Linked DNA regions of Homo sapiens: region 2 is reported to be linked to region 1. Evidence: microRNA targets listed by miRTarBase, many of them from high-throughput screens and not tested one by one. Region 1 holds a microRNA gene; the other region holds the end of a gene's coding sequence.
The links. Region 1 holds the annotated microRNA hsa-miR-1178-3p (UUGCUCACUGUUCUUCCCUAG, at 3,072-3,092, opposite strand). A microRNA usually pairs through its seed, bases 2 to 8, with sites in the 3' UTR of a target mRNA and lowers its output. Matches are read on the target gene's strand: a 7mer-m8 pairs with bases 2 to 8, a 7mer-A1 pairs with bases 2 to 7 and ends in A, and an 8mer does both.

Region 1 (5,385 bases):
GGTCATCACCTTCCAGTTTCAGCAGGGAGTTTCCAAGCAGTTTCTTTTCATAGGTGAAAGAAAAGAAAAACAGAAGACATCGTGAGGCTGATCTGTTTATGACCAAACCATCCAGAGAAACCAAGAGAAGGTTAAGGCCAAGTTATTCCTGGAAATGCTCAGAAACGCACATATGCTCTTAGCTCAGCCCGTATTTTGATCTGAGCTCCAAATGCAAAATGCGAGTGCTATTGGTATCTCTGGGGCAGCTGTTAATTAGCATCTGAGTTATAATTTGGCTGGGATGCAGAAATAAGGGAGGGTAGTAGACATGGAAAGCTATTCTGTAATAAGAAATAAGCTGAAGCTAAGGAGATTTCACCTGCGCAGGGTTAATAAGACACATGAAAGACTCCTTCCCCCATAAGGCTGCAGCAGAAGTGCAAAGGCGCCGTGTTAGCAGCGAGCCAGCACGCCTCTGCATCTCTTTACCTGAACCCAGGCAGGCAGAAGCTCGTAAGAAACACAGTCGCGGGCCTATTGTACACATATTAACAAGGATTTCAGTAAAAGCTCACGTGTGAAACGACCAACAAGTCATCCAAACAGGTCTAACCACTGAGTAAAGCCCTTTTCAGGAGGCTTGTGGTTAAGAATCTGCCAATTGCTAACACATAAAGTGTTTATTAGGAGTGAAGAGTCTGAAAAGAGCTGTTTGGTCTTCGCTGGAGCAAACGTCAATGAGCAATGAGCACTGTTTGTATCCTGGAACATTTTAGGTGGGGTGATGCCAATCACAGCACACCTACGTTTCTAACAGCTTAAGGATAAGTAGGACTCCAAACCTGCCTACGGAAGAGCAAATACTGCAAAAACAACTGAGATGCTTATGAAAAGCCTTCCTGGAGGGGACACAGCTGCCGGCAGCCTATTGTGCTGCTTCGTGGCCAAAGTGCTTCTAACTCAAGCCTTCAAACCAGACAAACTCATTTGAGTAAACAGGAGAGAGGATTTCCTTATAAGTACATTTGCTGCTGCATCACCACAACCAAGGTCTACAATGCCACCAGAGTAGGCTACTGATGCCGATTCCCCCATTCTTTTTCCTTTGCTTTTACAGTCCATGCCTCGCTCTGTTGCCCAGGCTGGAGTACAGTGGCACAATCGTAGCTCACTGCAGCCTCAAACTCCTGGGCAATCCGCCGGCCTCAGCCTCCCTACTAGCTGGAACTACAGGTGCATGTCACCACACCTGGCTAACTTTCTTTCTTTCTCTTTTTTTAAGAGATGGGATCTTGCTATCTTGCCCAGTCTGGTTTCAAACTCCTGGGCTCAAGTGATCCTCCTGCCTTGGCCTCCTGGGTCACTGGGACCACAGGCATGAGCCACCGCATCCCTGATTCCCACATTCTAAATGGATCATGATGCCACACAAGCTACCTTGGTGCTTGTGCCTTCATCACCACCAGACTCCTGGCCATGACACAGTCTAGAGCCATCAGCCCTCAGAGAGAGAGCCTGAGGGGAATCAAAATGGCCAATGGGATTCTCGTCGTTAACACCAGTTACCAAGTCAGCCCCCTTTACAAAGACAACCTCCAGGGCCCGCTTTCATACTCACAGCATCAGCTTCTGCTTTTTCCCTAGAAACTCTCCCACCTGCGACAACTGATTCTAAGGCGGTGACCCAGCGCTGTTTGTCAGGGAAGCTGGGAGCTAGCAAGTAGAGGGTTCTCCCGGGCCAGCAGGTGGTGTGCGGGTGAGATTCCATCTTCAGTATGTATGGGACATCTAGGAGATTTCAGAGAGCACAGGATTGGGTGTGGATTTCCCCCGTTCCCACTGGGAGGGACGGGCCTGAGAGATCAAAGATGCCCACCAAACCACGCAAATCCCAGTTACCGCCAAGGCGGGGAGCGGAGGAAGATGGGCCTCCTTTGCAGAGCCAATCTTCCCTGTACCACCCCTTCTGTCCCTGCTGATTGGCCAAGCCCGGCCCACCTCCAGGGCGGGGCTCCTCCGGCTCCTCCTCACCTGCTTTGGCTGTATTTGCGAGTTCGGAAGCACCAACGGCACCATGAATAGATACATCCCCGTCGGGAAGGCACAGCTCAAATTCTTCCACCGGCCTCTGTCCAGCTTGGTGCAAAGAGGAAGGGCAGAAAGAAAAACAAAAGAACAGGAACAAGAACAAGGGGAGAAGAGAGAGCGAGAGAGACAGCAAGGGAGAGAGAGACAGGGTACGTGTGTAAAGAGAGGCGCACGAGAACAAGGAAGGGACAGAGGTGTGCAGAGAAGGCAGAGAGGGAAGATAAAAAAAAATAAAGTGTGTCAGATGAGTAGCACAGTCAAATTTCTGATGACGATGCGGATTTATGGGTTAGTTGACTGAGGCAGAAGTTCTCGGAAGGTGTATTAGCAGGTGGAATCTTCAGGGCAGCGCCCTGCGGGTTCTTCAGGGGGGAGACCTATAGATGTGAGTATCGCACCAATAACCTTTAGAGAAGTCATTTGGTTTGTAAGTTTCAAAAATGGAAAAGCGTAGAAGGCTTGCAAGGCAGTCCAAAAAACAAAGCCTTCGCGCCAGCACTGGGGAGACCTGGGTTAGCCACGTGCAATGACCTTCCCCCTGAATTATTAATTTACCTTCTCTGGCTTCATTGTCATAAATGAGGACTTTTGATCCCTCCAGGACAATGTACTTCCTGTCCCAGCCTTGCTGTCCTCGTTTGTTATTCCTGGGGAAAGAAAGATGGAAAAGAAAAATGTCTGAACTCAGAAGAAACATCCGGCTGGAGGATAGGATGAGGGGGTGGCAGAGTTCCTAGAAAAGACACTTCCCTAGAAAACATCAGGGACAGAGTGGCTTGTGCCAGCACCTGCTCCAGCCCAAGCCACCCTGACATGGTACCTGGGCACCTTCATCCACCCTTCCAGGTGCAAGCTGCTGCTGGGCTCCTTGGTCTGGAGACCTGGGGAGTTCATTTTGTCACGGCAGAAGGCCTCGGTGAAGTGTGTGGCATATTCAGCAGGCAAGCCGCAGGTGGCTGGCAAGCACGTGGAGCACTTGGGGTGACACATCACCTGACATTCTAGGGAAGAACAGTGAGCAACCTGAGGGCATGCTCAGCTGACCCTGGACCCTTCCCTTCCTCTGCCAGCCAACGCCTGGGCTTCTCTACCCCAGCCGGGCCCAGAGAGTCTGGCCCTGGCTTGCAGGTAGTCTCCTGAGCTTCCCCTGGTGCCAGGCCCCTGCAGAAAGGGAAAACAAAAGTGCCAAGTGCTCTTGACCCAGTTTTCCAGGCTTCAATCCAGACCGCCCACAAACAGGTGTGTAAAGAACACGTTTGCATGTTTCAGTTGGAGTCAGCGGAAAGGTAGGGAGAGACCAGCCTGACAAAAAGGGGCTGGAAATTAGCAAAGCCTAAGGCACTCTGAGCAGCAGGCTGGAGTCATGAGCTGCAGACATATATAAACTCACAGCTTCAACAGGGGAAAAATAGCATCCTCCTACTGAAGTAAGAAGCTCGAAAATGAATGCACTATATGATGAGTTAGAAAAAAATCACCTCCACCTGATAGACTTTTTAAGCTGGAGATGCACAGGTGCCCAGCACAGATGCACAACTACTGATCTTACCGAGACATTTGGATGCCTGGCGTCCAAAGTGCACGGTATCCAGACACACAGCACACTTTGTGGCTCGCATGTTCAGTCCTACGTTGAATCGGTGAGGAATATTGTGGTGCATGCGTTCCTTAAGACGCCGACTAAATTCTGGAGGAAAATGTTTTAAAAAATCATTAGAGTACTGCAAATGATCCCATCAGGAAAGTGAAAAGACAACCCACAGAAAGGGAAAAAATACTTGCAAATCAAATCTCTGATAAGGGACTCATATCTAGAATACATAAAGAACTCTTACAACTCAATAATAAAAGGACAACCCAATTTTAAAATGGGCCAAGAATTTAAATAGACACCTCCCCGAAGAGGATAAATGGCCAACGAGCAAATGAAAAGATGCTCAACATTATCAGTCGTTAGAGAGATGTGAATCAAAACCCCAAGCAGACACCACTTCACAACCACTAGGATGTCTACAGTCTAAAAAAAGGAAGATAAGTGTTGATGAGGATGTGGAGAAACTGGAACCCTCACACATTCCTGGTGAGAATGTAAAAATGGTGCAGCCACTTTGGAACTCAGTCTGGTAGTTCTGTAAAAGGTTAAACATAGTTACCCCAGAACCCAGCAATTCCGCTCCTGGCTATATATCCAAGGGGACTGAAAACATATGTACCCACAAAAATCTGTACATAAATGTTCACAGCAGCATAATTTATGACAACTACAAAGTGAAAACAACACAAATGTCCACCAATGGTGATATGGTTTGGCTGTGTCCCCACCCAAATCTCATCTTGAATTGCAGCTGCCATAATTCCCATGTGTTGGGAGGGACTTGGTGGGAGATAACTGAATCATGCGGGTGGTTTCCCCCATACTGTTCTTGTGGTAGTGAATAAGATCTGATAGTTTTATAAGGGGAAACCCCTCTCGCTTGGTTCTTATTCTCTTTTGTCACCGCCACATGAGACATGCCTTTTGCCTTCCACCATGATTGTGAGGCCTCCCCAGCCACATGGAACTGTGAGTCTATTACACCTCTTTTTCTTTATAAATTACCCAGTCTTGGGCATGTCTTTATCAGCAGTGTGAAAATGGACTAATGAAAATGGATTAATGGATAATCAGATGTGCCATCTACACAATGGAGTATTATTCAGCCATGAAAGGAATGAAGTTCTGATACATGCTACAACATGGGTGAACCTTGAAAACATTACATTCCATGAAAGAAGCCAGACACAAAGGCCGCATGCAGTATGATTCATCTTTATGAAATGTCTAAGAGAGCAGATCGACAGAGACAGAAAGTAGATTGGTGGTTGCTAAGAAGAACATTAGTGGAAGGAGAATGGCGGGGGACTGATAATGTGTATGGAGTATTTTTTGGGTGGGGGGGTGTCAAAATTGTTCAAAAATTAGAATGTGATGAGGGTTACACAACCCTGTAAACTTACTGAAAAAGACTGAATTGTACATTTTTAATGAGCGAACTGTACGGTATGCAAATTACATCTGAATGAAACTGTTAAAACCATTAGAACAGGTTAGTTACAGATTTTGAAAGTATTAACACTAACAGATGCATCTAGATTTATAAGACTCAACTTAAAATCTCCATTATCCAGTGATTAGGAATCAGGCTTTAAGAACATGTTACTGGTAGGAGATTGACTGACTATACGGTAGGCTCTCCTTACAACATCACCCCCCTTCCTTTCTTGGAAAGGTGCAAGGAATAAATAACAGGAATGCACTTTGAAACTGTGTGGTGC
Region 2 (5,385 bases), not on the chromosome of region 1:
TATCTGAGTCTAGCAATTGAAGTAATGTGTTTTTATTGTTTCTTTCAGTTGTGTGTTCTCATTTTGCCCAAGACCTTTGGCCAGAGCAGAGCATAAAAGATTCTTACCAAAAAGTGATACTGAGAAAATTTGAAAAATGTGGACATGGCAATTTACACTTTAAAAAAGGCTGTGAAAGTGTGGATGAGTGTAAGTTACACAAAAGAGGTTATAATGGACTTAACCAATGTTTGACAACTACCCAGAGCAAAATATTTCAATGTGGTAAATATGTGAAAGTCTTTCATCAATTTTCAAATTCAAAGAGACATAAAAGAAGACATACTGAAAAAAAACCTTTGAAATATATAGAAGGTGACAAAGCTTTTAACCAGTCCTCAACCCATACTACACATAAAAAAATTGATACTGGAGAGAAACCATACAAATGTGAAGAATGTGGCAAAGCCTTCAACCGGTCCTCACACCTTACTACACATAAGATAACTCATACTAGAGAGAAACCCTACAAATGTGAAGAATGTGGCAAAGTCTTTAAGTACTTCTCTAGCTTTACTACACATAAGAAAATTCATAGTGGAGAGAAACCCTACATTTGTGAAGAATGTGGCAAAGCCTTTATGTACCCCTATACCCTTACTACACATAAGATAATCCATACTGGAGAGCAACCCTACAAATGTAAAGAATGTGACAAAGCTTTTAACCATCCTGCAACTCTTTCTTCACATAAGAAAATTCATACTGGAGAGAAACCGTACACGTGTGATAAATGTGGCAAAGCCTTTATTTCATCCTCGATCCTTAGTAAACATGAGAAGATTCATACGGGAGAGAAACCCTACAAATGTGAAGAATGTGGCAAAGCCTTCACCCGCTCCTCACACCTTACTATGCATAAGATAATTCATACTGGAGAGAAACCATACAAATGTGAAGAATGTGGCAAAGCCTTTACATGGTCTGCAGGCCTCCATAAACATAGGAGAACTCATACTGGAGAGAAACCCTACAAATGTGAAGAATGTGGCAAAGCGTATACTACATCCTCAAATCTAACTGAACATAAGACAACTCATACTGGAGAGAAACCTTACAAATGTAAAGAATGTGGCAAAGCTTTTAACTGGTCCTCAGACCTTAATAAACATAAGAGAATTCATATTGGACAGAAACCAAGAACGTGACAAAGGATTATTTTATTATTATTATTTTTTTGAGAGGTAATTCTGCTGTTGTTTCCCAGGCTGGAGTGCAATGGCATAATTTTGGCTCACCACAACCTCCACCTTCTGGGTTCAAGTAACTCTCCTTAGTAGCTAGGATTACAGGGCTGCACCACCACACCTGGCTAATTTTGTATTTTTAGTAGAGATGGGGTTTCTCCATGTTGGTCAGGCTGGTCTCAATCTCCTAACCTCAGGTGGTCTGCCTGCTTTGGCCTCCCAAAGTGTTGGGGTTACAGGCATGAGCCACTGTGCCTGGCTGACAAAGCTTTTTAAGGAAGTTCTCAACCCTTATTACACATAATTCATACTGGACAGAAACCCTACAAGTGTGAAGAATGTGGCAAGCCTGTAACAAGTTCTCAATTCTTTTATTTTTATTTGTTTATTTATTTTTTGAGATGCAGTTTCACTCTTGTGACCCGGGCTGTAGTGCAATGGCATGATCTTGGCTTACTGTGACCTCTGCCTCCTGGGTTCAAGCCATTCTCCTGCCTCAGCCTCCCAAGTAGCTGGGATTACAGGTGCCACCACCATTCCCAGCTAATTTTTGTATTTTTAGTAGAGATGGGCTTTTGCCATATTTGCCAGGCTGGTCTCAAACTCCTGACCTCAGGTGATCCACTCGCCTCGGCTTCCTAAAGTGCTGGGATGACAGGCATGAGCCTCAATTCCCAGCCATAAGCTCTTAATTCTTAAGAGACATGGCGATAATTCATGGTGAAGAGGAACTTTACAAACCTGAAAGATGTGACAGTGCTTTTCCCAACACCTCCAACTTTTCTATGCATAAAAAAAATTATACTACACCATAGAAATGTATGAAATGTGACAAAGCCTTTATATGGTTGCCACACTTTATTGTAGGTAATTCATACTTCCAAAATACCTACAAGTATGAAGAATGTGGCAAAACTTTTAATCAGTGCTTACACCGTATTTCACAGGAAAGCTATTATCCTTGAGAAAAATTGTACAAATATAAAGAATATGGAAAAGCCATTAATGTCCATCACATCTTACTCAACAGAAGAAGGTTCATAAAAGAGCAATTACTGTGACAAAAATCTTTCAGAAAATATAAGCCTTTAAGGTGAAGAAGAGTATTGATTCTGAAGACAAGCATTACAAATATAAAGAGGTTTGTAGTACCTTTGCTTGTATTACAGATCTTATTGCCCGCGTTTTGTATTAGAAGGAAACCCTAAAGCGGTTGCCAAACTTTGTGCAACATCAGGGAATGTATATTGAAGAAGATTCCTGCAAATGTAATGAGTTTGGAAACACTTCTTAGATAAATTATTTGTGGCTGGGCACAGTGGCTCATGCCTGTAATCCCAGCACTTTGGGAGGCCAAGGTGGGAGGATCACCTGATGTCGGGAGTTTGAGATCAGACTGACCAAAACGGAGAAACCCAGTCTCTACTGAAAATATAAAATTAGCCATGCATGGTGGCACATGCCTGTAATCCCAGCTACTCAGGAGGCTTGAACCCTGGAGGCAGAGGTTGTGGTGAGTCGAGATCATTGCACTCCAGCCTGGGCAATAAGAGTGAAACTCTGTCTCCAGGAAAAAAAAAAATTTATTTGTGTATAACTTTAAAAGCAGATTTTTGGAAGCATTGTAATTACATTAAAAGTATACTTGTTCCAGCTGCGTGTGGTGGCTCATGCCTGTAATCCCAACACTTTGGGAGGCCAAGGCAGGTGGATCACGAGGTCAGGAGTTCAAGACCATCTTGGCCAAGATGGTGAAACCCTGTCTGTACTAAAAATACAAAAATTAGCCATGCATGGTGGCCGGCGCGTATAATCCCAGCTGCTTGGGAGGCTGAGGCAGAGAATTGGAATTGCTTGAACCTGGGAGGTGGAGGTTGCAGTGAGCCGAGGTTGCACCATTGTCCAGCCTGGGCAACAGAGCAAGACTCCATCTCAAAAAAAAAAGTGTATTTGTTTCCTTAAAAAAATTTTTCTGAAAAGTGGGTAATGACATAATACAGCTTTCAAATTACTTTATGCTGTTATTTTATTCTTATTGTATTCACATGTGAAAGCATGTGATCAATTTTTGCTGCATCAGAGATATTAGAGATAGTTTTTTATTAATTGGGCATTTATGACCTTTTCTATAAAAGTAAGGACATTAAAATGTAAGATGCATGATGAAAATATAAGTGGAGAGGCTCTTTGTAGTTAACCTATATGAAGTAATGTATAAGGTAGGTCAGAGTAATACTTTTCTACATTATAGTGCAAGAAATAATTATTGATAAAAGTATATTAAACTAAATTCGTATATTTTACTTATTGTACTTTTATGTAATAAAATGCAGTGCATTTAAAAATTGTTAGATTATGTGTGAATTTAATTTTATGTTTTTTACCATGTTAAGACTATTGTGCATTTAATGAAGCATTATTATGCCACTAACCTATCCCACCTTACTCAAAGGTGTAGGTAAAAGATGGTAGCAATATACTATTTGGTACATAATGGAATAATGTCTCTAGTAATCACTTTGCCAGTGGCTTTAAACAGCAAATGAATTTAAGAATATTGTTCCCATAGGTTAAATTTTTATTCTCTTTTCTTACTGAAATTTATTATTAGTATTTGTGAGTATATAGTATATGTATATATTTATGCTTTATATGGCATATTTTGATTCAGGCCTATAATATGTAGTAACTACATTAGGGTAAATAAGGTATCTATCACCTCTAGCATTTATCCTTTGTATTAAAAACAGTGTAATTATATACTTTTAGTTATTTTAAAATGTACAATAAATTGTTATTGACTACAGGGTTATTTTTATGATCATAATAAAAATTATACAGAAATATAAATAAAATACAGCCAGGCCCAGTGGCTCATGCCTGTAATCCCAATACTTTGGGAGGACAAGGCAGGTGGATTGCCTGAGGTCAGGAGTTCAAGACTGGCCTGGCCAACGTGGTGAAACCTCGTCTACTAAAAATACAAAATATAGTTGGGCATTGTGGTGCATGTTTGGAGGCTGAGGCAGGAGATTCACTTGTAACTGGGAGCTGGAGGTTGCACTGAGCTGAGATTGCACCACTTCACTCCAGCCTGGGCAACAGACTCAATCTCAAGAAAAAAAGAAATAGAAATCATACATATACTGAAAACTTATTAATAAATGTTTGTTATATGGTTTTCTTTGAACATGTGGTCTTTGCCTGCAAATGTAGACTTTCAGTGTTAATTTACATCAGTTAAATATACACATATTACTCTGAAGATAAACCTTAGATGTAAGAAACTTATGGAGTGTGTTTGTGTGAGCATGAGATTGTACATATTTTCAGAAGAAAAGAACAATTATTGGAACAAAACAAATTATTTTAATAAGGTGGCTAATAAAAAACTAAGCTCCTTGAGAATGCTGAAAGCAAATCTATGCTTTCTGCTTTGTCTTGAATTTATTAATATAAAATTTTATGGCTTATGTTTCAAATTTTTTTCAGAATCTGTCTATTAAAGTACAGGCAGCTTTGTCTCCAGAAACAACGCTCTTGAGTACAACAATAAAAGCCCTCTTCAAACAGAAAACAAATAATCATAGTTAACACTTGTTTTAATGAAAATTCAACCAAAATTAAATAATTAGATATATTTTTATTGTCCTATGTGTGTGTGAATGTATAAAATGGTGCATAAAGGAAAAATATGCCAGAAAAAAAGTTAATATTTGTAATGAATAAAACTGGAAATTAGTTCATTATTTGCAGGTGATATCTTTGTTTATGTAGATAACAAAAGCAGCAGAAAACTTTCACGGAGTCTCTCTCTGTTGCCCAGGGTGGGGTGGAGTGCAGTGGTGCGATCTCGGCTCACTGCAAGCTCCGCATCCCGGGTTCACGCTGTTCTCCTGCCTCAGCCTTCCGAGTAGCTGGGACTACAGGCGCCCGCCACCACGCCCAGCTAATTTTTTGTATTTTTAGTAGAGACGGGGTTTCGCCGTGTTAGCCAGGATGGTCTTGATCTCCTGACCTCATGATCCACCCGCCTTGGCCTCCCAAAGTGCTGGGATTACAGGCGTGAGCCACTGCACCCGGCCAAAACCTTTTTTTTTTTTTCCAAAGAATTATAAATAGAAGATTCTAAAGAGAAGTTTTTAATAAATAAGCATTT

Region 2: miRTarBase lists ZNF486 as a target of hsa-miR-1178-3p. The part of its 3' UTR that is shown has no 7-base or 8-base seed match.

The regions. Positions count from the first base shown.
Region 1 is chr12:119,710,578-119,715,962 of GRCh38, forward strand. MIR1178 (microRNA 1178) reads right to left here and starts at 3,147; the gene lies at 3,057-3,147. It overlaps CIT (citron rho-interacting serine/threonine kinase), which reads right to left. Exons shown (of 48, transcript NM_001206999.2): 33 at 3,620-3,757; 34 at 2,891-3,071; 35 at 2,626-2,717; 36 at 2,014-2,118; 37 at 1,601-1,770; 38 at 1-43.
Region 2 is chr19:20,196,916-20,202,300 of GRCh38, forward strand. ZNF486 (zinc finger protein 486) reads left to right here. Exons shown (of 4, transcript NM_052852.4): 4 at 49-3,573. The coding sequence ends at 1,187. The region is part of intron 5 of LOC105372310 (a long non-coding RNA gene); the gene reads right to left. It also overlaps the pseudogene LOC100419841. Among named protein-coding and RNA genes, the nearest start is that of ZNF486, 32 kb to the left of the region's middle.